Regions from separate parts of the Homo sapiens genome. Here all the other regions are linked to region 2. Evidence: fine-mapped QTL for protein levels in blood plasma. Region 2 holds a variant in brackets. A gene starts in each other region. All regions are shown on their forward strands. Distances are between the middles of the regions.

Region 1 (4,065 bases), 77 Mb before region 2:
CCTTTTCTTACTGGACTTTATTTTCTTATAAACAAAGTTGCCAAATTAATATCCACCCCACAAAAAGTATTGCAAGCATTAAATACGATACTATATGAGAAAGTGCTTCATAAAGTGTTCAGCTGCAACTTCAGAAAACTCAACCTAAACACCTTAAGCAAAATGAGAATGTATCGACTCATATAATGAAAATAGAGCATCTGAACCCATGCCAGTGGGTTCAGATTTCACTCTACCATTTTTTTTTTTTAGAGACAGGGTCTTGCTACATTGCCCAGGCTGGAGTGCAGTGGAATATTCACAGAAGTGATCATAGCACACTATAGCCTTGAATTCCTGGGCTCAAGCAACCTTCCTGCCTTAGCCTTCCTAGTAGCTGGGACTACACATGCGTATACCACTGCACTGAGCTCTCACTCTACTTTTATTCCACAGCCTTCTGCATTGGCCTTATCCTCAGACAGCTTCTCCCTTAGTGGAGCATGATGGCTGCAATAACTCCAGCCTTTTTTCTCCAGTTTCAAGTCCAGTAAGAAAGAGAGGATGCATCTCTTTCAACAGTCCCAGTGAAAAGTGGCATTGCATCTCATTGGCTCTGAAGGTGGATCATCCCTGAACCAGTGCAATAGTACGATTTATCATACCTAAGCCACAAGCTACCTCTGGAGCAGGAGATGAAGTCAACACCACCTGCTGGACTGAAAGTATAGTGGTTTCTCAGAAAGGAAATTGGGATGTTGTTACCAAAGGAAGAGGGAATGAATGTTGCCATGGTGGGGAGGTTGGGGGCGGTGGCGAGAAAAAGGCAGATTTCCTCTAGAATGCCATCAAAATGAAAGTAAATCTAGGCTTTAGCACAAGTCCTAGAATACCAGAACGGAGACGTGCTTTCTTGGACCTTAAACGAAATAAAATTAGGCCAAGTGAAGCAAGTGCCATTTAAAATAGTAGCTATGAATGTATATAATTAGGATTTCAAGAACTGAATGAAAATATAAATGTTTTAAAAATGGGAAGAAAGATTCACAATAAGGAACTAGACTGTTGCAGGGTGGGGGTGGGGTGGTGGGTGGCATGGGGAACTCTGAAAACTCATTAGTTGAGGATAACTACGCCTACCAACAGAATGCAGAGGTGCAAGACTGAGCTACTGGTGCCTGAGTTCTCAGCGGGCCAGAAGGAAGGACGGTAGGGTGGAAGGGCTGGAGTCTCAGTTCTGGGAAGTCTCCCTCTTATCTCGCAGAATGCCTGTCCCTGGATAAAGATCATTAGTTTGAGTTTTTCCAAGATGATTCTAGGAAGCTCCTGCTGGTAACTAAGTCACCCATCCTGGGGTGGGATCCAGAGATTTAGATTTTTTATAAGCTTTCCTGCCACCGAAACGGGTGTTTGGGACCTCACGAGGCCCTGTTCATTCTTCGTCGCTGCGCTCCCCACTCTGTACTGGATGCATTTACTGACGTTGTTGTCTCCGTCCCCAGAGTATGAACCCCCAAGGTGACTCATGCAGCTGTGGGTGCCCGGCATACAGCATGGTGACTGGAATGGATGAGCACCCAATAAACATTTGTTGCAGGAATGCAGGAGGACGGGCAGGCCAGCAAGCAGGCTGCCTGGTTTTTCCCACATGGGCTTTTCTGGGAAAGAAGAGCTTCTATTTTTGGAAAGGGCTGCTATGATTGAGAAAAGTTCATGGCAGCAAAAAAAGGACAGACGTCGGGAGGGAAACACTCCTAGTTCTCCCAGACAACACATTTTTTAAAAAGACTCCTTCATCTCTTTAATAATAACGGTAACGACAATGACAATGATGATTACTTATGAGTGCGGCTAGTGCCAGCCACTGTGTTGTCACTGGGCGAGTAATGATCTCATTGGATCTTCACGGTGGGCGTGCGGGGTGGACAGCCTCACACCCCCATTTTACAGATGATGAAAAGGAGGTGCAGGGAGTGGTGCAGCTGCTTCAGGCGTACACAGATAGGAAGTGACAAGGCTGGGACTCTGCAGCCTGAGTGTGTCATCACGACCCACCCGCTGCTCTGCTCTCATAGGTATGACAGCACAGCTCTGGAGCAAATGCCACGCACATTTGCAAGGTGCCCATTTCCATGCAGCAAAAATAAGTCAATAAGTTATTGACTTACAGAAAAGCAAAGGGCCTCTCAATAAAGAGGTCATTGTACACCTCTCCAAACAGGCGATTTTCTTTCTCATTTTTATTCCCCTGCTGTGTGCTGAAGGTCACTGGCTACAAGCCGGTGAAGTCGCGGAATGGAATCCTTGGCCCGAAAACCCAAAAATGGGAGGGGCAGAGGAGGTGGGGACAGAGCGGGAGGAGGTGGAGGCGAAGCAATTCTACAACCCGGGGAGGTCTGGCCTGCTTTTCCTCCCTGAACTGGCCCAATGACTGGCTCCCTCACGCTGACCACTCCTCTGGGCTGGCCTCCTGCACTCGCGCTAACAGCCCAGGCTCCAGGGACAGCCTGCGTTCCTGGGCTGGCTGGGTGCAGCTCTCTTTTCAGGAGAGAAAGCTCTCTTGGAGGAGCTGGAAAGGTGGGTGCTAAGTTGAGGTTCATTTTGTTCTTCTCGGAGTGTGCTTATTGAGTCTGAAGCTGGGTTGGGGCAACGGGCCTCTTCTTGGGAACAAATTGGATCATCTTCTTGGGAAGGAAATGTACTTTCCCTGGCTGCTCTGAGGGGTTAGTGGGGAGGTGGAGTGAGCGGGGAGGAAGGCAAGGAGGGGAGGAAGAAACCGTTCCTCCTGTGGATCTGCAAAGACCAGTCCAAGAGGATTTTAGTGTTAGGAAAAGGAATCTGGAGTGACGAGAAAGGGGGCCTTTCTAGATGTTGCATGGCTTTGGTGTCGGGAGCCACTTATGGGACAGCAGGTACTCTAAAAAGCCACCTCCTTAGGAAAGCAGAGAGGCCCTGGCCAGCTCAGGCTCCCAGCAAGAGCTCCTTCTAGGAGACAGCTGAGGGATGAAACACACCCAAGGCTCAAGAGGGGCAGGTTCTTCCCAGATACAGACCCAGGAAGGAGATAAAGGCTTGGTGCCTCTATTTGGTTCAGGATAAGGGCCCCTGTCCTCTTTCTCTGATAACACTGTCCTCTTTCTCTGATAACACCGTCCTCCCTTCCAGATCCACGTACAAAGGAGGCCCTTAAAAAGGCACTTGGTCATTCACAGCTCAAACTGAGCAAGAGGCTGTGGGAGAAGAATCAAGTTGGTCCCGAGGGGAAGAGGTGTCAAAGGCTTAAGAAACAAGAAGTCAGAGTTTACCTGGGTTTGAGGGAGAATTTTCTTTCCCCCTTTTCCTCCTCCTCCTCCTTCTTCTCTTTTTTTTTTTTTTTTTTTTTTTTTTGAGACATGGTCTCATTCTGTCACCCAGCACCCAGGCTGGAATGTAGTGGCACGATCACTATCACGGCTCACTACAGCCTCTACCTCCCGGGCTCAAGCGATCCTCCTACCTCAACCTCCTGAGTAACTGGGACTACAGGCACATGCCACCACACCCAGCTATTTTTTTTTTTTTTTTTTGCTAGAGATGGGGGTCTCTACCAGGTTGGTCTCATACTCTTGTACTCAAATGATTCTCCTGTCTCATCCTCCCAAAGGGGTGGGATTACAGGCATAAGCCACCATGCCTGGCTCTTCTTTTGGTTTCAGAGAAAAACATCTCCTTAAAATGTTTATTTCCCAAGGATTCTTGAAAAAGAAAGCTCACTGACACACCCAAAACAATCTGGTTTTGCTCTGTGCTTTTAGGGAGAACTTTCTAAGCAGCAGAGCCCTTCTGAGTGGCAGGGCTGTCTTAGGAGGAAGGTGTCTTTGATGATGGGGAACTTCATGTCCAGGTCTGGCAGGAGAGTTACCCCACTTTCCTGCCTACTCCCTGGGGCTTTGGGGTAGTAGTACCACATTGGGCCATGTCATTTAGGTGAGTCCTTCAACATCACTTTCTCTGCTTCTCCCTCTTTCTGGATCCTCCTTCTTGGAGCCTTTCAAGGGGACCTCCTCTCACAGTGTCCATAGCATCTCTTAGCTAATGGTCCTTAAA
Region 2 (4,065 bases):
CTATGCTTCACCCAACCCATTCTTTCATGACCTCAAGTTTACCCAGCAAAATCTTCACATCTACCATCACCTGTACCAGAACTTGTATTTCTCTAATTTTTCAGTGGACTAAATCCTTCACGTTTTACCTTATATCTTGCTAAAACACTTTTGCTAGCTAATCCTAGTTTATTCTAGATTCCTTTATTATCATCTCTCATCATATATTCTACTTTCTCTCTTATTTCATAGCATTTTTTATTATTTGTAATTATTTAGTCATCTGTGTGATTTTTTGTTGTTTAATTTAAGGATCCCCTCTTTCTAGAGGAAAAGCCCCATGAATGGAAAAGCCCCTTGAACTGTGCCTATTTTGCTCACTCCAGGATGAGTATTATTTCTTAGTATTATTTCTTTAAACTGAACAACTCTAGTAAGATTCCATTCTTATATCAGAAAGTAAAATGACTATAAGATAGCATGAGACATTAATTTTGTGACAAAAGTTATAAATGTAGCATTGGTTCTAAGAGATGAAATCCTTGCTCTTCTGAGGGTCTGCAGAGAACAACGAACAGAGCTAGACAAATATAATTTGGAGGTAAGAATGCAAATAAAAAACTCAAATTATTAAATTATGTATGTAATACATCCAGTTCCAAATGCAAAAGAAATAGTCCTTGATTTTCATACACTACCATATTATCATTTTATAGAAAGATTTCCATGATTTATTTTAAAATGCACAGGATATTCTCTCTCTTACACACACACATGCACACTCTTTTTTTTTTAGATGGAGTCTCGTTCTGTCGTCAGGCTGGAGTACAGTGGCACAATCTCGGCTCACAGCAACCTCTGCCTCCCGGGTTCAAGCAATTCTCCTGCCTCAGACTCCCGAGTAGCTGGGATTACAGGCGCCCGCCACCACGCCCGGCTAATTTTTGTAGTTTCAGTAGAGACAGGGTTTCACCATGTTGGCCAGGATGGTCTAGATCTCTTGACCTTGTGATCCGCCCGCCTCGGCCTCCCAAAGTGCTGGGATTACAGGCATGAGCCACCGCACCCGGCCATGCACGCTCTTTTGAGCACAAACACACACATACACACAGATACAAAGACACAGACATTGAACAGATATAAATATATACTATGTCAAATAACTATTGTCAAAATTTTACCAATTTTAGTGTACCAGTTTTAGTTTAACCCAAAAAGCTGTCACTGTTTAGAACTTTGAAATAACAAAATGCTATTTACTCTAATAAGTTATTCCTCTTCCAAATGTGGCATAGACACAAAAGAGGGAGAAAAAGGAGAAAAAGTCCTATAGGGACATACTATAACATAAGACAAGATGTACCAACCACAAGGGGAATAGAGATAGAGGAAAATATCTCTATTTCAGCAAAAACAAATCATTTCACCTTCAAACAATACGATTATGTTTTAAAGAACCAGTGAGGATCAGTTTCAAATTACTATTAGTGTAAACTACTCAAGTAGAATGATCTGTTGAAATGGGATTGTTCTGAATTACAACAGAAAGGCCTTCCACACTGCGGAAAGCAGAAGGCCACCCTTAGTTAACTTATAATCCAGATACTCATTTCCAAATTTTAAATTAAAAGAAAATACAAATTTTAAGCTTCTTACCATATCTGCCAGAGAAATATAGAGGAACATGCCTCCAGCAAGTGCAAATATAATATTTGGAG[C/T]GAAATTGTTGCCCACCAAAATGCCAAAAGCTAGCCCAACATAGCAGGAACATGCAGAAAGGAAGTTGAATAGCAAGGCTTGTCGAGTGCTCATCCCTGCATTGAGTAGGATCACAAAGTCTCCTAGAAGAAGAAGAAGAAAATATCAAGTGAATAGTTTTTTTTTTATTTCTGGATGATATCAAAGATAATCATCAATGTCCAACAAGGTCTTCATTTTAGTGCATCAGAAGGATTTTAAGAGCATGTCACCTGAAAAGTCTCATTCCACTGAAATCAAGAAGTAAGCAGACTTTTACAATATGAACAGAGCTCCTTACCTAACTCGTGGGGAAACTCCTCACATAGGATTGCTATGGAAGTACTGAGTCCCTGAAGGAGAGACAAGGTGCAGGAAGCCCCAATCGCCAGGCCATCGATGAAATTGTGGAGGGCATCGCAGAGCGTTATCATCCAGGCAATCGTCCCTATTTCTGACAGTTTGGGCCCCTTCAAACAGGTACATGAACTTGGCTCTTTTTTTCCATCCTAGCAGAAAATCAATTAAAATGATAACCAACATTTCTTGAAAGTCTCAGAAATACAGACAAGTTGGAGATGGGTTGTGCTTGAGAAAAACAAATTGTTCCAACAGAAAGTCTTTTAGAGTAACTAGGAAACCCTAATAATATATAACAGAGCAAAGAAAACTTATGGTTGAGAGAAAGGAAATTCATCAACTGACACACCTCGAATAAGCCACTAACAGATATTTTCCTTTACTTTCCCTTTAAAACAATTCTTTTGACTTGTATAAACTTCTTCCTACTGCCTTTCTAAAATGTAGCAGATATTAACCTAAGAAATTTATTTATACACAAGATTTAAAATGAAGGAAGTTATTCAAAGACTAAACTTAAAGTCTTTTTTATGTTACAATTTAAATGTGAAATCCACAACTAGAGCATGATGAATGACATCAGCAACATTTGTTCTAACCCCTCCTATGCCACCATGTGACAGGGAGCAAGTTATCACAGAGTTCCTTCAACTGTGAAATGAAGACATTGTACTAAATGATTCATTTATTTATCAACAACTTATTGAGTTTCCATTCTGTTCCAGGTACCCTGTGGAGGGTTTAGGCTGTAACAATATGGTCTCTACCAGCTCCAAAGCTTAATTATTTTCTTAACAAATTGCATGAAGTGTAAATGGAACAGGCTAGCCTTTACACTAACACTTCCTTTCATGTAGAAACAATTAAAAAATAGAAAATCCTGTGATGGACTCTTTGTAGGAATTTAGATTTCCAGAAAATTTACAAAATTGTACAAAATCAAATGACAAATGCCAACTAAAACACTTTCCAGAAGTTGTAGAAAAAGATAAAATGCAAATTCATTTTTAAGTACAAAAGCACTTTGCAATTAACTGGAGAACATTTTATTCCTAATTCTCCTCCTCTCACCTCTACCTAAGCAGCTAATCATTACATTTATTGAACTTCTGAAATTTGTAAAACACTCTGTTGAATGCTATAGGAAATACACAGAAATGGAAAACACAGCTTCTGTCTTCAAGAAGTGTATTTACATTGGAGAAACAAGTCATAATATATATGGATACATTAAAAAAAAAACATGCAATATATATCCAACAGAGAGGGGCTTACTTCAGAGCAACCATCTAAGAGGTTTTACAGTTACTCCAATATCACTTCACCACTCCAAACACTTTGGGGACCAACACTTTCAGAATCAGCCTTAGATCCTGCAATACATCTCTTTACTATTTCGTTAGTGGCAAATCTGCACCTTTGGATTTTTGTTTGTTTGTAGGCACAGATAAAAGCATTTGGAGCAAATATTTTTTTAATTAATATGAAATGAATGGGAAACTGTTAGTAATAGGATTCATCATCATTGTCATCACCAATGTGGTCGTAGTAGAAATAGTAACAGCAAAGGCACATAGCATTTATAATGTGCTAGGCACTGTTCTAAGCACTTCAAATACCGAATTCATTTGGAACAATTCTATGAGGAAAGTACAACTGTTACCATCATTTTATAGTTGAGGAAATTAAAGCACAAAAAGGTTGGTAAACTTACCCAGAGATACAAAAAAAGAGTGAATGGGCATTTTTGGCAACAGTGCTTTACTACTACACACATATCGGGGATGGGAATTCTTCTCTGTAATAGGATCTGAAGGTAATTCGCAAGGAGACTTCCCCACCTCTCAGAAAACTCTTCTGAACGCTTGATGCAACATTGAGTAAGTATCAAATCTTTTTTATTTTAAGAAACAAAGCTTATCCGCATAAAAAATTCTATCTTTTCTTAAAATGTGGGCTTTTTATTTTATAGCTGTATCTTAAACGCAC
Region 3 (4,064 bases), not on the chromosome of region 2:
TGGTACTTGCACAGGTAGCCGTTGGCGCGCAGGTGGCATCGCATCTCCTTCCAGCCTGCGGGCTCGACCCCACCGGTGGCCTGGAGTACCGCGCATCTCCGCGCGGTGCAGGAGCGTTGGGGCTCCTCCACCCACTGCAGCGTGTCGCTTTCGAGACCGCCGGGGTCGGAGGACAGCCAGGAGAAACCCCGCAAAGGCTCGTTCTCCAGGGTGCAGTGGGAACGCCTGCGCTCCAGTGCGACCCAGAACAGCAGGTCTTTGGAGCCCCCTCCGGGCCCTGGGCCTGCCCGCAGGAGCGCGAGCACAGCGCGCAGCTCGGCGCCCGCACGCACGGTGCTGAGCGCCCCACCTCGCAGGATGCAGGCCTCCTCGGCCGCCTGCCGCTTCATGGTAGCGTGGTGCAGGCTGTAGCAGGCCCCCGAGGCCGAGCAGCCAGCACGGTCGGCAGTGGGGTGTTCGCCGCCGCCCGGCCCGGGCCAGAGCGCCTGCCAGAGGAGGCACAGGGCGAACGCCGGCCTCATTCTCTGAGGCCCCGCACGCAGAGCTGCTCCCAACTTGGATCTGTCCCGCTCGAGGACGCAGAGCTGTGTCTGGAGCGCGGTCACCGCCCTCTACAGCTGGCTTCCCCAACCCGGTTCCCCCTCCCTTCCCCTCCGCCCTCGCTCCCGACGGACCCCCCAACTGCCAAGAATCCCCCCGCGGGCCCAGCGGCCAACAGTTTCCCTTAGGCCGCGACAGGAAATGTGTGCGGAGCGCTGCCAGGCCCGGTGCAGCCCTGAGTTATTCTGGGGTCAGGAACACAGCTGGCGCCGGGTACAGGGGACGCAGTCGACTAGAAGGTCAAACACCCTGCTTAGAGCAAGAGGAGAAATTCGCCACTGGGATGAAGTGTGTGGTTTTTCTCCGTTCAGGGAGTTTCATCAGGACCGCAGAACCCATAACACGTAAGCGAACATAGGCAGGAAGGACTTGAGAAAGGAACTGGCTTATGATTATAAGACCACGCCCGTCTATTGTGTTTCTGTCCGGAGCTGTGGAGTTAGCGTCAGAATAATTCGTAGACGGCTCCAGTGTTTGGGGGGCCTGTGCCTGTGGGGGAAAAATATGTTGTGAAACAACTTAGCAACTGCTTTTGCCACCAGAGGCAGCACTATTTAACCGCATATCTCTCTATGGGTCTTTGCTTCTCTATTATGTCAAGAGATTTCAGGAGTCCTAACTACTAAAGAATTTGGAGTTGTTTGGGTATTTTAAATGGGAAATTCTGCTTCTTCCATCAGCACTTGCTTTAGAAATTTATTTTTCACTTCCACGTGTTTCTCTTTGAGTTAGACCATATTGATTCATTACAGAAAGGAAATGTATTTCTAGGACTAAATGAAAAATAATGACCATAGATCTTAACAGTTAGGTTGTTAGCTTTCCTTGCCACTGTATTGGTTCAAAAATTCTTCAAGTTTATAGGTTATACATAAATGAGTTCGTGGCCTTATAAATATTCGAGAACAACTGCCCTATGTGTGATTTTAGCCTTGAACTATTTTAGTATCATTTTCTCCTATGATTGAGTGGCAGCATTTATAATAGTAAGTTGTAAACATCTCCTTTAAGGAAAATTAGAGTTCCTTAAGAAATTAAAATGTTTATTCCATTATAATGAATATTGTATACTGTCAAAAAATATCTTGTAATTTGAAAGATGGGTGAGCCAATTTCTTTAGAATTCCAGTGGGTGTTTTGTTTTAATATAAACATTTCAACTCAGTGGGAAGTGGCAAGGAATTAAAGATGAATAAAGAAGTAAAGGTTAAAAACTGTACTGTTATGAAAGGATTTCTTGTTAGCAACTTAGACAATTCAGTATCAGTTTAGAAAACGTACATTCTATCTTGGTTCATAATGGCCAAATACGTTGCCATCAGAAATACATAGAGAGTTTCAGCTAAGCCCTCTTAGAGATGTCTGATGCTTTTAAATATCTTTAATCAGAATGAAAGTTGCCATTCCATGGATAATGCATATAAGCTCACTTTGTTTTACTGCATTCAGGTTGATGAGGGGTGGGAGGGAAGGTTTCAGGATCACATCTGTATGCTTCCATCTTATTTTTACCATAACTCTCATTCTTCTTTCCTCCTGGAAATTCCATGTATCTTAACAAACAACAGTAAGCCTATGAGTCATCATCATACTTACCTTGCTTTTGCTGAGTATGGAGCTTTGCACTAGGATTTCTCTCCTGCCCTATTTCCCAATTTAAAGAACATTCCTTAGTCCTTCCTTCAGATGTCTGAGAATCACCTTAAACGTGGCTTTGCGTTTAAATTAGGTAACTTAGTGTCTTATAAGAAAGAAACATGAAAATCCAGAAATCAAATTGAATGGTTTTTAAAAAATACTTAGTCACTTGGGCCAGCTCTCTATAGACCATTGCAATCTTATGACTGTGTTTGTAAATGTGTCCATGTAGTGCAATATTTTTAATAAAATCTTTTTCAAACTTAAGTAGTCAATGGAAATTTCTTAGATAGCTTTAAAAATCGTTTGGGATGAGATGAGGTGTCTACAGTAAGAAAGAATGAATAGCTGGAAAGCTTAAGTAAATACATGATCTCACTCCCTGACATTCTGTCTAGGGGAGTGGGATTATAGCAGAGAACACATTGGCCATAACGACTATATGAGAGTACTGACCATGACCATGACCATATCATGGAATGACACAAGAGTTAGAAAAAATTAGCTCAAAGTAGGACGTAAATAGTTTTGTAATTAGTTTGAAATAGACAGTTTATCTGACCAAATTAGAAATGGAGGAAAGTTTCTATTTTTTAATAATATTTATTAAGATAATAATATAGAACCATTTTACCCCCACTGGATTCCAAATGCCTAAAAATCTTATAATACCAAATGTGAATCTATTGGCTCTTTTACATGTTACAGATTAGAGCAACCACTTTGGAAAAATTTGACACTTTTTTTCACTAAAATTGAATATTTGCAAACTCTAGCACTTCCATGATAAGGTATAAAACTAAGAGAAATTTTTGCACATGTACAACAGAAGATATGTAAAAAATGTTTATAGTGACACTATTCATATTAACAAAACGTTGAATCAATCAAAATATCCAAAAACAGTATAAAAATAAACTGTAGTATATTCACTAATTTAATATTATATAGGAGTAAAAATTAGTACAATATAGTGGCAAGTAACAATATGAATTTATTTTAGCAATACAATGTTAATGGACAGAAGTTCCAAAAACGATACAGAGTCTGACATTTTTATACAATTAAAAGAACAGTACTAGATATATGTTTGTGTATTCTTTAGAAAAATAGTTACAATAAAATGAGACAAAAGAAACAATAAACATAAGATTCTTAGTGATGCGCCTTTTGGGTGAGAGGAAAGAGAAGGATGGAATGTTAGGGGAACTAGCAGGCTTGATATGGGCTGTTGATAGAGTCCTAGCTTTTGTTTTGTGCAGTGGCTTTGTGTCACTACCCAAATAATGGAATCTTTATTCCATTATTAAAAATAAATAATTAGTAATGAACAAATAAATCAAAATGGCTATATCTGGATAAATAAGTGAATGGACATGAAGCAGGAATTAAAATTAATTTAATTCTGAGTGGTTGAGTTTCAAAATGAAAAGTAAAAATAAAATCAAAATGTTAATTATGTTTAAAATATATTTTCAGTATATTTTCTTTATTTTATTATTATACTTCAAGTTCTGGAGTACATGTGCAGAACATACAGGTTTGTTACATAGGTATACACGTGCCAGGGTGGTTTGCTGCACCCATCAACCTGTCATCTACATTAGGTATTTCTCCTAATGCTATCCCTCCCCTAGCCCCCCACCCCCTGACAGGCCCTGGTGTGTGATGTTCCCCTCCCTGTGTCCATGTGTTTTCATTGTTCAGCTCCCACTTATGAGTGAGAACATGCGGTGTTTGGTTTTCTGTTCTTGTGTTAGTTTGCTGAGAATGATGGTTTCCAACTTCATCCATGTCCCTGCAAAGGACATGAACTCATCCTTTTT
Region 4 (4,065 bases), not on the chromosome of region 2:
CCCTCATCTCTACAAAAAATACAAAAAATTAGCTGGGTGTGGTGACCCACGCCTGTAGTCTCAGCTGCTCAGGAAGCTGAGGTGGGAGGATCGCTTGAGCCTGGGAGGCAGAGGTTGCAGTGAGCCAAGATTGTGCCACTGCACTTCAGCCTGGGCAACAGAGCCAGACCCTGTCTCAAAAAACAAAAACAAAAACAAAAAAAGTCTTCACAGCAACCTTATGAGTTAAGTACTACTATAATATTATCTTCATTTCACAATCAAAGAAACTGAGTCCAAAGAGCTTCAGTGAGCCGCCTAAGCTTACACAGCTAACAAGGGGAAGAGCTAGGATTCAAACCTAAGAATAAACTCCAGAGTCCATACTCTCAACCACTATGCTTCCTGTCTCTCAGTAATATGTCAATCTCTCTATATGAAAGCCAAAAGGGGTTACAGGTAAAACCCAGCTAGCTAATGCATTCCTTGAAGCTGGAAGAGATGCACACTTGGCTTTTTATGGGTGAATAATCCTACTTATGTCATTGCCAAGCTCCAACCCAAGGATCAAGACTGTATTAAGGTTCATAACCATGTGGGAAAATTCTCTACACACTCAATTATAGTCCAAAGTCCATACCTGACTCCACAGTAAATCACTAAGCCTAAGATTTAGGTCAGAGACCCAGCTAGACAAAGGATTTGGACAAACCTCCACCCCAACTCAAAGCAAGACAATTCAGAAACTTTTGTCCAAACGTTCTGACAAAGTAGGCTTTTGTTTTGTTTTGTTTTAGTCCTAGGCCCACTTAAGATTTAAACGGGGAAAGAATACGAGTTGTCTTTAACTTTGCTTGAAGACTTCAGCAAGAAAAGCCTTTTCTACGTGGGCTCAAACAGAAATTGGCATATATCAGCATCAGCAAAGTTGAACATCCTGGCTTAAGGAGACAAAAATAGGCATCCTTGCTTAAATGGTGTATTTGGCCAAACATGTTGACCTTATAATTGTGGAAGAAAAAAATGGTGCGAGGAAGAGATTTAACCTAATTTGTAAATGTGCTCAGCCTAGATACACACCTGTCCCAAATGACCTACTGAATCCACTTATTTGCAGGGACAACATGGATTACAATGCCTTTTTTGTTTTTATTTTTTGCCCTCAAGTGGTCCATACTACTGTTTGTAAACAAAATCCTCTCACTACCTCTCTTCCACCTGTCATACACACACATCTGATATTTACATAAACAAGAAGAAATGAACAGGGAAACTGGAGCTTTGGGAGGAATTCCTTACCCTCAGCTTTTGACCCAGTGGTTGAAGGAGGTACTATGCGGGCTTTCAAACTTCCCCAAATAACCCAGGCAGAGAGGCTGGGTGCGCGAACCCAACCCAAAAGTTTGCGCCCATTCTGGTCTCTGAAAAAGGCCAGAAAGCCCTGTTGGGAAGAAGATGAGATGCCTTCCACCCAGCAGCCACCCCCTCCCGAGGGAGCACAGCCCACGGGGGACAAAAGACTTTCCAGATTGATCGGGGGCGGGAGGGAGACTAGCTGGACCTGGGATCCCCCCTCGGGAGCCGGAACCTGGGGTGTCTTTGGGGTAACAAACGATAAATTATAGGCAAGAGCCCAACCCTAGATTGCCGGGGCTGAGGTGAGGACGGGTCCTGCCCGAGAGGGAGCGCCGGACTCACCTGGAGGAGGCGAAGAGGGGGCCTCGGTGGCAGGTGGGGTGGGGAGGACGCTGCTGTTGCTGCTGCTGGGGAGATCGGGGGTCGGGGTCCGGGGAGTCGTGGGCGCCGGTACGGTGGTCGCTACAGGGGTGGTCGGCGCCGGGCCAGTGGTCGTCGAAAGGGTGGTCGGCGCGGGTCTGGTCGGCGCCTGAGAGGTGGTCGAAGTGCGTTCCGCCGCCGGAGGGGTGGTCGGCGAGGGGCCGAGCGGCGCCTGAAAGGTGGTGGAAGAGGGTCCAGCAGTCGCCCAAAGAGGGGTGGTCTCCGGGGACTGGGCTGGAGAAGTCGCAGCCAGGGGTCGGTGGACGGTGGCGCGCGGGGGCCCGGTCCTCGGGGCCTGGGCCGTGGGAGCCGTCGCCCTAGGGAAGGGGTGGCTGGGCTCGCCCCGCAACCCGGGGCCCGGCGACGCGTCCACCTGCCCCGCGGCCCCGCCGCCACCGGTGACATTCCCCGCCGAGGCGGCTGAGGCGACGGCGGCGGCGGCGGCGGCGGCGGCGCAGCACAACAGGGCGAGGCCGCCCAGGCTCGGCAGGCTCCTCATGGCGCGCTCGGCTCCGCCATTCATTCATTCAGCCAGTCGGTTGGTCAGTCATCTTCTCCTCGTTGCAATCCGACCAAGGAAGCCTCCGCAACCGCCGCCGCCACCGCCACCGGGCGCACCATCGCCACCTCCCTCTGACAGGCGGCCGGCCCCGCGGGCGGGCCCCAGCGCGGAGGGAGCGACCGGACCGAGCGCGGACCGCCCGCCCTCCTCGATTGGCAGCCGCGCCTAACCAATGGGAAGCCACAGTCGCCCACGTGATCCGCCCGCTTCCCGGCCTCTTTGTAGCCCCGTAGGCCAATCAGAGGACGTCCAGGAGAGGGGGCGGTCCGTGAGGCGGGAGAAGGGTGGTGCGAGCCCAGCTCTAGCCCGCCGGGCTCGCGGCGGCCCCGGCTTTGTCTGCCCAAAGAGTGGGGCGCGGGCCTCGGGCACCGGGCGCCGCGGAGCAGACAAAGGATGCGCCCCGCGCGGCAGACGCCGGGCCTAGTCATCTGCTCCACCGGGCTGCGAGCACGAGCGGGGGGTGGAATCAGCACTCGGGAGCATCCCCGCCCTCCTGAACAATGGGGCGCCAGCGCCGCACCCCAGCTCGGGCGGGGACCGCGCGGGAACCCCGCGATGGGAGAGGGCAGCGGCAGCGACGATGTAGAGCTTGGCATGCCCTCTGCTGCTCCAGAGAGCCTGGTCGCAGCCTTGCGAGGTCTCTGCCGCCATTCCCATTTCAGAGATGGGGAAGCTGAGGCCCTTGCTGAGGGCCTCCCTGAACCGAGACCCACGCCCTCACCAGAAACCTGCTGTGGGCCAGGTGTTGTGCCAGACTGGACAAGGGGGCGGGACCGGGCGGTGGAGACCCCTGAGGGCAGAAGGTGCAAGCTTCCTGCGTGGAGGAGACAGGCTCGCAAGCACACTTACCTAAACCCCGGGAAGAATAGGATCAGACAGGGTTGAACCTCAACTTGATGTCTTTTGCTGAATGGTTTTGTGGCCTGAGCGCGGTTTTTTCACCACTAAAATGGAGATGATAGGACACCCCTCACCCCCCACCCCCCTCACAGAGCTGTTGTGAGAATTAAGTCATGGACGTAAAGGGCTTAGCCCAGAGCCTGGCCCACTGTTGTAACCCTCATTAATGCTAACTATTCTCAGCATTTGCGCCAGGGCAAGCCCAGGATTAGAAAGCAGCCCCAGGCCACAGCCCTTCAGTGCCCCCAGAGCCTCCGGCTGGTTGCAGGGGTTGGGGTGGGGCTAATAGCCGAGCTTGACCCTGGATGACACTAAACCCTGAATCAAGCTGGAATTCGGGCACGCAGCCTCGCATCATCCGCCCAGGATCCAGAGCTAGGTCAGGCGCTGCTGCTTCGGCTCAGCAGCTTCCAGAGGAAGCCAGGCAGGGCGGGTTTGTCATCTGATGGGGCTTAATTCAAGCCCCACTGCTAACCCAATCCCGGCCTCCCCTACGTGATGTTTGGCTTTGTGCATGGTTTCCCATTAGTCATTGGTCTTCAACCAGACCAGCAGGATGAGATTTATGTGTGAACCCGTGTATGTTAATTAAAGCATGCATTTATTTTCCTGCATGAGTAGTGGGTGGGGGAGGCTGTGTATGAATGCATAAACATGTTTGTGAGTCTGTGTGTATGAGTGTTGTATGTATCTGTGTGAGTTTATGAGTATGGGAGCTAGTATCTATTTTCATATATTGTGTCTTAATAATCTGTGCATGTGTACTGGTGTGTGTTTTTGTGTATTTTCTGTGTTTTTGCATTTGTGGTTATCTATGGGTGTGTCTTGATAGGTCTATGTATATAAGA
Region 5 (4,065 bases), not on the chromosome of region 2:
ACACTTCATGGATACACACTGAACTCGGAGTTTGGGTTTCCACAGGTAGAACCCAGTTCTGAGTTTGGTGTCGAGGTTTGTTGCTCTTTGAGCATGCTACTCAGCTCTTGCTGCACTTGGTATTCGTATGATTTGATTTATGTTTAGATTATCTTTATGAGATCCAGTGCATAGAGACTTGTTTTAAAATTCAGAAAGCTAATGCCTCTCTTCCTTACCATGAATCAGTTAGACATCATTCTCTAGTGTCTTAGGATGGCTTGGTACATAGTCCCCAATCATCTTCATACTGCTTTCATGTAGTTTTCGGTTTGACCAGATAAGGAGTTCCTATTTGGCACTTTGTCACTGGTGTGGTACAGAGTCACTGAGTTTATGAAAATGCCATTTTTAAAGGAACTGGATAATATCTGACCAGTAATATTTGCCCCAAACTTAAAACACATCCCTTAGAATCTAGCAGTAGTTCAGAATGGATCCTGGTACCCAGAGGGAATACAACTATAATATGAACATCAAATGTATGTTTAACTTTAGAAAATATCATCTCCATGAACTCTGATTATCCAGACAGCCTCCATATTTTACATGTAACCTGTAGAAATGGCTTTACAATAAAAGAAGGAACCAGGTAAAATAAAAAAATCCCAAGTTAAAATTTTTTTCCGAATTATTTGACATCCACTCCTTCTACAAATTGTTTTTGAAAGTAATCACATGAATGCCATTTTGATCTACCAATGCTCACCTTCTCCTTTCCTGATTTGTTTTACTTATACAACTCCACAAAAAAGCAAGTCACTATCAGAAATATCACTGAGGAAATTAACATGAATTTAACTGCAGACAGGTTTTAAAAACACATTGAGGTCATTTATTTTACCTCCTGAGCACACCAGGCACACTGAGGTCCAATAAGCAGGCAGTCTTCACAGGTTTCTGCACCTCCCAGGGCACAGCCACCTAGGTTTAGACCCAGCAAGATGCAGGGATTAAGTACACTTTCAGTCATTCCATTTATGAGACTGATGGCTCTTACATTACTTGAACAAAACAACATCAAAGTTTAGTTTAGTATCCAAAATCAGTCCTCGAAATGTTAGCAATTCACATAAAAGTTTGTATTTTACATCTATCACATGTAAAATATGTGTATGTATATTAAAAATTATGTATGTCTTATAAGCCAAAATTATCATGCTCTTTTTTCTTAAAATGTGAAAGTTCACAAATATAGGATTATCCTATTTATTATTCTTAGCCAATGTGTGCCACTTTAATTTTTAAAAATTACTTGCAACCATTAAAAAATGCTTCTTTCTTAAACAAGTTATTTCTGTTTTTGAAATAAATCCTCTTTCTCTTTCAAGATTATTACTCCTAAGTGGAAGATCTTGTGGTAGAATAAAATAGAAAAGTTTCAAAAATGGTTATCATACTGGCACTAAGTTCCATTGGGCAGTAATGTTATTTAATTCTCCTCATTAAAATGCCTGTGCAACCTTTGTATTTATTTACCTTAAGCCTAGAGCATTCACTGTGGGAACTGCCCGGTGTTTGTCTGTAATTTGTTAAAGTGTTCACTCAGTCACAAAAGAGCAATGGAACAGATCAAATAAAACATGACTTCAGATCTAGTTTCTGAACCAAATGACAGGTTTGTCAAGCATACCACGAAAGTAATATATCAGAGAACGCAGGTCTTACCTTGTACGTGATCATTCCTTCCTAGAAATAGAAAGAACAGGCAAAGCAGTTCAATCCCCATTCGTTTCAGTTCTTGCTGTGCAGACCGATTAAAAAATGAATTACCTTCAGCGTTACAAGACCAACGCTGAATATCGTTAAAGTCTTTCTTTCTTGAAGTATAACATTTTAAATACTACTTACACTGCTTTGAAAAGAAACTTGAGATATAAGTTAGAAAGTTTTCATTAAGACTGAAATGAAAACAGAGGCTACCTGGACAGGTAAAGCAGAAAAGCTGTGTTTAAAAGCAACTTCAACATGATTTACTTCCTTGTTCTCCTTATAAGGAAGGCAGGTGTACAATCACCAAGAAGGTGGGGAAATTCATTCAGTAGAAATTTTGGTGTAAGTTCTATGAGTCTCTCTGCATCCTAGAGAAAGTTAATATCTTTAGTGAAATATTGATCAATGAAAAGTCACAACAGCAATAGAAATATAGTCATTTTAAAAATAATTTTAATTTAATGTAAAGAATAAAGATTAAATAAAGCATATAGGCTATATATGAGGAAAGTAAAAAATGAGCTTAATGAAAATGCCTGAGATTTTAGTGTTTCATTGCTAAATCCTTTGCAAAAAATTGAAACGAACCCTGAAAAAGAAAAATTATTATCTTACAGTAAATGAGAAGGAAGGCTAGGGAAAGCAAAGCACTGTTTCCTTATTTTTTCAAATTAGATGAAATATATTTTTCCATAAGTATAAAATTCTTATTTTAAAATTATATTGGAAATAATCATAATATATAAAAATCAAAGGAGATCAAAATAAGAATGTCTCAAAAGACACTGATGACAACAATGATGAAAACAGAAATGATGGTGCCCAAGATTCTGAATCCCTCAGGCTAGGGACCAAGTTCTCTATGCAATGTGCTGTTCCAACCTCTAGCTCATGATTTGGCACATAGGAGATATTTATTTGTTGAGTGAAAGAGTGACAATTCAAAATATATATGATCTATGGCTAAATCCATGAGGTTTTTTGTATTTTTCCCCCAGGGTGTTCTTCAGGAAGGTGTTTTGAGATTTGTAGAGTCTGTGAACAGATAAGAATCGAATTCTCACTTCGTCACTCTAGAAACTGCTGACCTTAGAGAGACTTTTCTGTGGCCAGGCTTATGTCTGAGGAGATTATCTTTTCAAGGAGCATTCCTGGGTAAGCATGTGAAACCTGTAAACAGAGGGAAACGGACTATGGTCAATAATAATTTAATTCTACATTTAAAAATAACTAAAAGACTATAAATGGGTTGTTTGTAACACAAAGGAGAAATGCTTGAGGGGATGGATACCCCACTTTCCATGAGGTGTTTATTACACATTGCATGCCTGTACCAAAACATCTCATGTATCCCATAAATATATACACCGACTATATACCCACAAAAATAAAAACTAAAATAAAATAATTAAAAAAAAAAAACCAAAGAAAGAGAGAAACTAATTATAGACTACCTAGGCTTTTCTCAGAAGCCTATGTTATGTTCAATTTTGAACTCCATCATATCCAAGAAGCTGGAAAAACATGGCAAGAATTTTGCGGTAACAATCCAGAATTATTGAAGAATTGGAAGATATGCATTTTGAGAGAAAATTTATATAAAATTAGTTGATTTAACTTGAAGAAGAAAGATCGAGCCACAAATTGTTTGTGTCTCTGTTATTGTCATTTTAAAAATCCAGTATTAACTATTATTCATTCATTATTCATTCATTCAACAAGTACTTCTTGGGCATTTACTTTCTGTCAAATATTATTTTTGAAGCAGAGGCTACATCAGTGAACACAACCAAGTTTTTGATCCATGCAGCATATATTCTAGGCTGGAGGGCAGTGCAGGGAGATAGACTTCTAAAATCAGGCAGTGCCCAGGGCTATGAATCATAAGTCTGGGTAAAAGGAAAGAGGGGCAAGGGAGTGTGTGATTTTCTTTAGAATAGTCAGGGAGGGTTTCCCTGACCAACTGGCATCTGAGAGAGCCCTAGATGACTTTGACAACACAGCTAACTATGAAGGCCTGAGACAGCCCAATGGCAGGTGTTTTCAAGGGCAAGTGGAATACAAGAAGGGAGAGAGAGAGGGTAATCAGATTTGAGGGCAGAGGTCAGATCATATGTAGTCTTGACCTTGAATTTTATTCTATACCTTGTGTATCACTGGAAAGTTGAAAGTAGAGAAATAATACTATTTAATTTACATTTTAGAAGAACCACACTGGCTGCTGAGGAAGTGAAAATGTATGCGGCAAGATTGGAAGGTGAATGGGGCAAGAGAGGAATGCATGTCTCTGTCAAGAACAGAGATAATCGTGGC
Region 6 (4,064 bases), not on the chromosome of region 2:
GCCCTGTCCCTTCCTCCAGATCCGTCTGGTTTTTTACACCGTTTGTTAATAAAGCCTGAAACCGCTGTGTGCCTGTCTCTTCTCTGATGGCTTTCCCAGTCTGTCTCCGGACACCCCCGCCCATTTCTGTCTGGCTTCTCCTTTCCCCAGTTAACATTAATTGTTGGGGGACGGTGCTGGACTGGGAGAAGGGGAGGCTGTGAGCTCAGGGGCAGCCCGAGGCCCTGCCAGCCCTTCTGAGTCACGCTCCCCATTACCGAATTTTTTCCGCCTCACAGCTGCCTGGTGTGCAGGCAGTGGGGTGTGTGTGTGTGTGTGTGAGTGTGTGGAAGAGTGTGTGGAGCCCCTCCCCTTCCCAAGCCTTGACCCTTGTGCTGCTTATCCCCCGACCCCAGCTCCCTCTGGGACAGTGAAGTTCAACCTCTCCTCTCTCAGCTGGGGACTGGGGGCTTCACACTCAGATCCACCAGTGAGTGGGAGGACTGGAGGGCCGGGTCTTTCAGTCTCTTTTCCTAACCCAGGAAGTCCCTCCTGGTGTCTGGCTGCAAATCTTCTTGCTGCTGCACCAAGAACCCCAGGTCTGCCCAGCCCCCAACCCTAGCAGTGGTCTCACTGGATTTCCCTGACCAGACAAGAGGGGAGACAGCAGGTGGGCGCCCCTCCCGCTCATGCTGCGCCCCCCCCGCACACGTCCCCCAACCCCTGTCCTGTGCCTTCCTGCAGCCGGCCACCCCCTAAGCATCTCTGGGCACAGCACTTTGCTGGCTGGAGCCTGCCTGGCCGTCGTCTCCATCTCCCGTGTGGGTGTCTGCAGTTGGACACCCTCCCTCCCGCCCGCCACCCCCCTCCCCCCCATGCCTCAGCAGACGGCCAGCCCCCTCCCGCCCCCCCTCCCCCCCACCGTCCCCTGCCGCCTCCCTGCAGCCTCTTTCTTCCTCCTGGCAAAGCGTCCAGCCCTGCCTGCTCCTCCTCGGGCCTGGGCGCCTCCAGCAGGCACTTCCCTCCCTCCCTCTCTCCCCAGCTGCCTCCTCCTCTTCTCTCCCCGCTCTCCTTCCCCTTTCACCCCATCCCCTGCCCTGGCTGCAACCATGAGGGTCTTGGCCTGCCTCCTTGGTGAGTGATCCATTCTCCTTGGGGACTCGGGGGGCCTAGGCCCCCACCTCTGACCCCTTAGCTTGTCCAGTTTAGGGACTCAAACTTCCGGGACTGGTCGCTGGTGCTCCTGCATACCCTGACATCCCTTCTGAGGATCCCTGCTCAATCTGCCCAGCCTTCTGCCAGCCCAGAAGCCCAAGGGACCTGCCCCCTGCCCGCCCCCCAGCCCTGACCCTGCGGGGGATCTCCCAGACATCTGACCTTTAGCCAAGCCCATGTGTGTGTGTGTGTGTGTGTGTGTGTGTGTGTGTGTGTGTGTTGGGGTATTCAAGATGAGGGGCCTGCGCTGGAGAAAGGGCCACCCCCGGCCTGCCCCTCACACTGCCCCACCCTCCGCCCTCCCTTCCAGCGGCCCTGGTGGGGATCCAGGCTGTTGGTAAGTGCCCAGACTCCTCCCATCTGCCCGCCCCCCCCCCCAGGCCTCCCCCTTCTGCCCATCCAGGCCTGGCCTCACCCCCACTGGGTCCCCGGCCCATCCGAATTCCACTGTGACCTTGGCCCCAGCTCCGCAAGGGAATCCCCCAGGTGTCTGGCCGCATCTCTCTGAGCACCCAGGAGTCTGGGCCCAGGGGCCAGTGAGCAGGGCCACTGGCCTACAGACAGTACCTGCAGGACAGCCACCTGCCCCTACAGTTGCCCTGGCCTTGGGGCCCCCAGGATGCCCCTCCCCAGTCACAGCCATTCCTCCAACCCTCAGAGCGCCTGCGCCTGGCCGATGGCCCCCATGGGTGCGCTGGCCGCCTGGAGGTCTGGCATGGCGGGCGCTGGGGCACCGTGTGTGATGACGGCTGGGACCTGCGCGATGCCGCCGTGGCCTGCCGGCAGCTGGGCTGCGGAGGGGCACTGGCCGCCCCGGGAGGCGCCTTCTTCGGGGAGGGGGCAGGGCCTGTGTGGCTCAGCGAGCTGGCTTGCCGGGGCAACGAGGGGCAGCTGGGCCTCTGCCACCACCGGGGCTGGAAGGCCCACATCTGCTCCCACGAGGAGGACGCGGGCGTCGTCTGCGCAGGTGAGGACACCCTGGCTGCTCCTTCAGGGGGAGCTCCTTTGGAGATGACCCAGGAACCCCAAGTCCTTAGCCCCAGCAAGTCTGAGTGTTCAGCAGTTCAGAGACACCCAACCTCCCATCCCCTCCAAAGCCAGGTGGCTAACTCCCTCTTCCAGGGACCCAAATGGCCTGGATTCCCCTCCTCTCCTCATAGCTTCTGTCCCTGCCCCCCCGCCGCAGGTCAGCGTGTGGCTAACTCCAGGGACGACTCAACATCTCCCCTGGATGGGGCTCCCTGGCCAGGGCTGTTGCTGGAGCTGAGCCCCAGCACGGAGGAGCCCCTGGTGACACATGGTGAGCCCAGGGGACTGCCCTGCCAACCCCCACCCAGCGTGCCCTCCTGCCCCCCCCGAGGGGAGAGGGACTGCCCTGCCAACCCCCACCCAGCGTGCCCTCCTGCCCCCACCGAGGGGAGAGGGACCTCTGCAGTATGAACTCCCAGGGGACACACAGCCCGCCCCCTGCCCCGCCCCGTCTCCTTCATAGCCTAGGGAGTCCTCCATCACTTCAGACCCTCAGAGACGGAGGCCTGGGCCCCCAGGTGGGAGGAAGGATGAGGGGCTCAGCTCCTGACCCCTGGCTGTCTCCACTCCCAGCCCCCCGCCCAGCTGGGAACCCCCAGAACGCCTCCCGGAAGAAGAGCCCCCGGCCCAAGCAGGCCAAGTCCACCCGGGCCCCTCTGCTGACGACAGGAGCCCCCCGCCAAGGTAAGCTCCCTGCAGGCTCCCCCGACCCCAAGGCTGGTTGCTGTGAGGCCCAGGGCCCAGAAAAACTGAGGACCTGCGGGCGCCCTCTCCTTAGCCGGGGCCCTGGAGGGATCCCAGTGTTCCCCGCGTCCCTCCCCCGGGGATTTAGACGGCCAGGCCTGGTCTCCCCTCTTCTTCCTGCCCTGTCAGGAGGCCCAGGTGTCCTGGCCCGCTCAGGTCGTGGACTCACCTCTTCACGGGCTGCCGGCGGACAGATCTCAGGCCACCGCTCCCTCAGGCCTGTTTCCCCAGGTGGAAATCGAGGAAGGGGTGTTTGAATCATTTCTCACTGGCCACACCGTCCCCTCCCTGCTCACCCCACAGAGCGGCTGCGCCTGGTCTCTGGCCCCCACAGGTGCGCCGGACGCCTGGAGGTCTGGCACGGCGGGCGCTGGGGCACCGTATGTGACGATGGCTGGGACCTGCGCGACGCTGCTGTAGCCTGCCGGGAACTGGGCTGTGGGGGGGCGCTGGCTGCCCCCGGCGGTGCCAGATTCGGGCCTGGTGCAGGGCCCGTGTGGATGGACGATGTGGGGTGTGGAGGAGGAGAACAGGCCCTCCGAGACTGCCCCCGAAGCCCCTGGGGCCGGAGCAACTGTGACCACAGCGAGGATGCGGGGCTGGTCTGCACCGGTACGTCGGGCTGGGGCCTGGCCCCCTCCTGTCTTCCTCAGACCCCAGCTCCCTCTTGCCCCTCCAGGAAGCTGCAGCGGGCCTGCTCCCAGCTCTGCCTCCTGCCCGCCTGCTCTCTGCATGCCCAGCGCCCACTCACCACGCTCTCCAGCCCCTCCTTCCACAGCTCCTGCCGTTCTCCTTGCCAGGAATGGGAGGAGCAGGCTTGAGGCTTGGGCTAGTGCTCAGCCCTGTCCCGGGGCCTAGGCCAGTGACCGTTTGTTTAAGCCTCAGTTTTCCTGAAGGAGCGATGGAGCTAAGAATGCCTGCCTCAGGCTTGAGCCAAGTCCTGGAACGCAAGAAGCCCTGCCTGCCCTCTGCCACCGGGCTGGCCATGGCAGGGGACCGTCTCGGAGACCTCTTGTCTCTGTGGCCAACCTCTGCTCCTTCCCCATCCTCAAGGGAGCTGGTGGGAAGGAGGGAGGGAGGGCGGTGACTTGGGGGCA
Region 7 (4,061 bases), not on the chromosome of region 2:
CTACCCGTCTCAGCCTCCCAAAGTGCTGGGATTACAGGTGTGAGCCACTGCACCCAGCCAGTATTTTCTTAAAGTTGTAATTAGTGGCCAACATTTAAAAATCAGATTTTAGGCCGGGTGCGGTGGCGCACACCTTTAATTGCAGCACTTTGGGAGGCCAAGGTGGGCAGACTGTTTGAGCCCAGGATTCAAGATCAGCCTGGGCATCCGAGATGGCAAAAACCCGTCTCTACAAAAAATACAAAAATTAACCAGGTGTGGTGGCACACTACTACAGTCCCAGCTACTGGGGAGGCTGAGGCAGAAGGATTACTTGAGTATGGGAGGTTGAGGCTGCAGTGAACTGGAATCACACCACTGAACTCCAGCCTGGGTGACAGATTGATACCCTGTCTCAAAAAAAAAATCAGATTTCAAATAAAACTATTAATTTCCAATTTGTCTTGAAAAATGGAAACACTCGGGCCCACATGTAACGGGTGGAGTAATGACTGCCCCCTTTTGACAAGTCATGCCTTTTCCAGCTTGTTATAGTCCATACCACTTTCTATTACTTGCCCCACCTCCTCATTTATACAGCCACTGCCACGTCTATTTCATATTGATTTGTTAGCAACCTGGTTTTGTAACTTTGTTTTCTGCTTCTTGGCTCATCAGAGAATGAGTAGCTACAGAATGGGTCAGATCAGGCTATGCCTCAGGGCACAAGATCCTCATTTGTTTCTCATCAGTGAGGCCCACAACCCAGGTATCCATTTTATAGTTGGATGAACAAAGAAAAGTAATGTGCACCAGGGGATGTAGCAAGTCAAGACCGAGTCAAGGCTAGAACCCAGGACTCCAGCCTCCTATCCACTTCAGAATGATTTTCAGTACATGACACCACTTCCCCATGAATCGGAGGTCTCCTATATGCTTGGCTTTAGCAGGCCCTGAGCAATGATATTTTCCACCCCCAAAGCCCTCTGTTGGTCTGTGCTCTTGAAGAGCACTTGGCTCTACATGGTACCTCCTAGATGACTGTTTTATGGATTTTCAATGAGGCTACTTAACCAGATGTCATTGCTGTCAAGTATTACTGTGGAAAATAGATCTGTCACCAACACTGCTTCATTAAACCATTTAATGAGAAAGGTGTTTAATGTTTTCCCCTGATCCTGACATGCAGCCATAACCTTTAGGATTAGTGAAATTTCCTGGGCAGTCAAATCAGACTGGTGATGTCTTGCTGCCCTGACTTACTGATGTTGGCAGGTGGACAGACCAGGGTTTTTCCTCCTTCCTTCCATATCTGTCTCAAGGCAGCATTTCTACAGCACTGCGTTGTGGACTGAGGTCTCAGGGCAGTGTGGTGGTCTCTCTGTCTCAGGAGTCCCTCCATTCAGTCTCTGGGCAGGAGCCGCATAATAAGATTCCACACACCCATACCACTCACGAAGGCCATGGGCCTTCCAGGGATCTCGGATCCCAGGCTGTTCTTCCTTGGGGGAGTGGCCTGGTTCTAAAACCAGGCCTTGAACTACATCTACAAAACATCTATTGTGGATTATTTATTATCCAAGGGGCAAGCCACTGTGCTAGACGGCTTGCAAGGCCTGCTATTGTAGAAGGTTATGAAACAAGTCAGTTTTAACGAACTTCTTTTTCTTCACCTGTACCTAGTTTCTTCCTCAGTCCTTAAAGCAGATGGAAGAGTTAAAGCCCACGTGGAGCAAATGACACTCTGTTTCTGATCTGATTCTCCCCGCCTCTTAGAGACGCTGTCTTGGTAGTGACCTGGCTGTGGGTTGTTCTGTGACTGTGTAGACCTACCTCAAAAGAGGGAAGAGGGGGGAAAAAGGGGCGAGGAGGAGATGCTTGGGTGGCCAGGCCATTGCTGGCACTCAGTCTATCTCAGTTCGTACACTGTGTTAGGTGTGACCCCAGCCCCTTGCAGGCACCCTGGGCTTCCTGCTCCAGTTCCCCTTGTTCGGCTCGGATGCACCGGGAGGCTGCTGCGCCCTCTCCGGACAGGTGCCCCGGGCCTCGCCTACACCTCACCTCCCCCTCCCACTGTACCCCCGGCCGGTGCGCGCTCTGACACTCACCGGCTGCGAGAGGCAGCGGCGACGGCGGCAGCAGCAGCAGCAACATCAGGACTACGGGCGGCAGCGGTCGCGGGTTCAGGGGGCGCACCATGGCGAGCTGTAGGCGCCGGGCTCCGCGCTCCCCTCGCTCCTCCCCTGGAGCTCTGAGAGCGGGGCTCCCTCGACCGGCACCTCCCGCCCCCGCCTCCCGCCCTCCAGCGCGACGCACACACTCTCCCACCAGGGTCCTGGGCGCCGCCCTCCAACTCCGAAGCGCGCGTCCACACCACGCGCCTCCAGCGCTGGTCCGAGGGACCGCGGGGGTGGGGGCGGGGGAGGGCCGGCGCCCCGGGAGCCGCCGGGCTTGGTGCGGAAGAGGTTGCTCTTTCCGAGGCGGCCCACCTGCTGTCTGACAAGTTCGACTAGCAAGACATTGTGGAAGCTGCCGCTGGAAACTCGCCATCTAGGAGAACCAAATATTTCTCCAAGAAAAGCACCCTTTCTCACTTTCTGGATCCCACTCACCCACACATCAAAGAACAGACACCACCACAAAAGAGATTTTGTAACAAAACTTGAACAAGCCAACACAAGGGCACTTGCATTTCTAGTATTTTTCTTAGAATTTGCACATCTATGATCTCGTTTTTTCCTCTCCTAAGTGTCTTCTAGGGTAAGATTGGGTGGTTATTAAGCTCAAGATGCTGCAAAGATGGGTCGCAGACAGGTGGAATGGCTTTGCTGGGGGAGCAGACCTGGGGCATTAGATTCCAAAATTCAGCCCCGATGGTGTCGTGAGGGAAGATGGAAGATTAAACTCTCCACTAAATAGCAGAGATTTCCTTGGACCAAAGCTCACTGAGGAAGGTGCCTGGAGAGACCATTTAGGAGCCCATCCTTTTCACATGATGAGACTTTCGGAGAGCAAGCTACTCTATCAGGATTAAACAACTAGGTAGAAACACATCTGTGCCCAGAACACAGGACGTCTACCCATAAGGATAAGGGTATTTATTGGGCCTGGGCCTGATTCCCACAAGATCCCAGGATAAAGCCAGAAGCAGAATGGCTTGGAAGAATGAGAACTAAGCAGCGCATAGAAAGAGAGAAGGAGAAGAGGGTGATGAAAGGAAGTGGAGGGTTTCATCCCCTAACCCTCTAACTTGACCCCCTCCTTACTTCCACAGCCAGCCTGGCAGAGGGCCAGCAGGGAGTACTGAGAATCGCAATATAAACCTCTGAGATTTATTGGCTGCTGCTTCTGAATATGGCCATCCTGCTGTGGCCTCTGGGGGGCATTTGCCGATGTAATCAGCCCAGAAAGAGAGTCATTCCAGCTGGGGGTGTAAATCACCCTTGGCAAAGCTAGGAGAGAGACATGTGGCCCTAGATAAGGAAGGAGACTGATGTGGCCTCTGTGCCCTTCCCTCCCTTCTCCTGCCCAGGGGGTGCTGGTTCCTGAGCTGTAATGCACTTTAAATGGAGTTTGTCCTTCGTTTTAATCTATATCTGCCCTGCCAGTTTTACAGAAGAGCTGTAAAAGTGAACATCTGGCTACTCAGCTTTTGTACAAGGCCTGTTTTCCCCCAGCTCCACCCTATCTCCATGTGCCTTTCCCAAGCCCTCCTCTCCAGAAAGGTGAGGGAACATGAAGCTGGGGGGCTACCATTAAAGGCCCCATGATGTCAGGCCCTCTACCCCATTGCCAGAGAGAAATATGCTCCAGGCACCTCATTTTCTCTCACACCTGCTATTACAGGCAGACAATCGTTTTTTGGGTTTTTTTTTTTGAAACTGACAATACTTAAGAAAGGAATTTATAAAGCAAAATGTAACAATTTCAGGCTCTTTGGGATGATAGGAAAGGGCTGAGACCCATGAACCAACAAAGATGTGAGGTGGTCAAGGGGTGTCTCCTCTGCCCTCCCCCTCCTCCAGCCCAAGCCAAATCATGTTATGGGCAGGAAGAGGGTTTGGGAAAGGAAGTTTGCTCAG

Which allele goes with the higher level. Positions count from the first base shown, and alleles are read on the strand shown. Strength reflects both the effect of a copy and how common the allele is.
For the plasma level of the protein whose gene starts at base 2,478 in region 1, allele T in region 2 goes with a higher level than allele C (moderate association).
For the plasma level of the protein whose gene starts at base 592 in region 3, T is the high allele of the variant in region 2 and C is the other (moderate association).
In carriers of allele C in region 2, the plasma level of the protein whose gene starts at base 2,390 in region 4 tends to be lower than with T alone (moderate association).
In carriers of allele C in region 2, the plasma level of the protein whose gene starts at base 1,977 in region 5 tends to be higher than with T alone (weak association).
With allele C in place of T in region 2, the plasma level of the protein whose gene starts at base 935 in region 6 is lower (moderate association).
In carriers of allele C in region 2, the plasma level of the protein whose gene starts at base 2,375 in region 7 tends to be lower than with T alone (weak association).

Evidence for each region. PIP is the posterior inclusion probability: the model's chance that the variant is causal. Protein levels are from antibody-based Olink assays in UK Biobank. Linkage for the fine-mapping came from a reference panel and not from the study's own genotypes, which makes the PIPs less certain.
Region 1: it holds the start of SOD3, and the variant in region 2 is fine-mapped to the plasma level of the SOD3 protein (UK Biobank, PIP above 0.99).
Region 3: it holds the start of CLEC14A, and the variant in region 2 is fine-mapped to the plasma level of the CLEC14A protein (UK Biobank, PIP above 0.99).
Region 4: it holds the start of MEGF9, and the variant in region 2 is fine-mapped to the plasma level of the MEGF9 protein (UK Biobank, PIP above 0.99).
Region 5: ITGB6 starts here. The variant in region 2 is fine-mapped to the plasma level of the ITGB6 protein (UK Biobank, PIP above 0.99).
Region 6: it holds the start of SSC5D, and the variant in region 2 is fine-mapped to the plasma level of the SSC5D protein (UK Biobank, PIP 0.98).
Region 7: it holds the start of GFRA3, and the variant in region 2 is fine-mapped to the plasma level of the GFRA3 protein (UK Biobank, PIP above 0.99).

What each region holds. Positions count from the first base shown.
Region 1 is chr4:24,793,096-24,797,160 of GRCh38, forward strand. SOD3 (superoxide dismutase 3) reads left to right here and starts at 2,478. Exons shown (of 2, transcript NM_003102.4): 1 at 2,478-2,556.
Region 2 is chr4:102,265,855-102,269,919 of GRCh38, forward strand. It overlaps SLC39A8 (solute carrier family 39 member 8), which reads right to left. Exons shown (of 9, transcript NM_001135146.2): 7 at 2,018-2,225; 8 at 1,636-1,820. Among named protein-coding and RNA genes, the nearest start is that of SLC39A8, 78 kb to the right of the region's middle. RefSeq lists an enhancer at 1,576-2,775. The variant C/T (reference allele first, on the strand shown) is at 1,698.
Region 3 is chr14:38,255,502-38,259,565 of GRCh38, forward strand. It overlaps CLEC14A (C-type lectin domain containing 14A), which reads right to left and starts at 592. Exons shown (of 1, transcript NM_175060.3): 1 at 1-592. The coding sequence starts at 521. LOC112268136 (a long non-coding RNA gene) reads left to right here and starts at 544. Exons shown (of 5, transcript NR_169588.1): 1 at 544-944. RefSeq lists an enhancer at 1-401.
Region 4 is chr9:120,712,081-120,716,145 of GRCh38, forward strand. It overlaps MEGF9 (multiple EGF like domains 9), which reads right to left and starts at 2,390. Exons shown (of 6, transcript NM_001080497.3): 1 at 1,678-2,390. The coding sequence starts at 2,278. RefSeq lists a silencer at 2,078-2,927.
Region 5 is chr2:160,198,296-160,202,360 of GRCh38, forward strand. It overlaps ITGB6 (integrin subunit beta 6), which reads right to left and starts at 1,977. Exons shown (of 15, transcript NM_000888.5): 1 at 1,708-1,977; 2 at 884-963. The coding sequence starts at 1,768.
Region 6 is chr19:55,487,502-55,491,565 of GRCh38, forward strand. It overlaps SSC5D (scavenger receptor cysteine rich family member with 5 domains), which reads left to right and starts at 935. Exons shown (of 14, transcript NM_001144950.2): 1 at 935-1,113; 2 at 1,505-1,531; 3 at 1,853-2,161; 4 at 2,381-2,494; 5 at 2,797-2,907; 6 at 3,271-3,579. The coding sequence starts at 1,089. NAT14 (N-acetyltransferase 14 (putative)) reads left to right here. Exons shown (of 3, transcript NM_020378.4): 3 at 1-65.
Region 7 is chr5:138,272,247-138,276,307 of GRCh38, forward strand. It overlaps GFRA3 (GDNF family receptor alpha 3), which reads right to left and starts at 2,375. Exons shown (of 8, transcript NM_001496.4): 1 at 2,088-2,375. The coding sequence starts at 2,178. RefSeq lists silencers at 2,098-2,287, 2,378-2,467.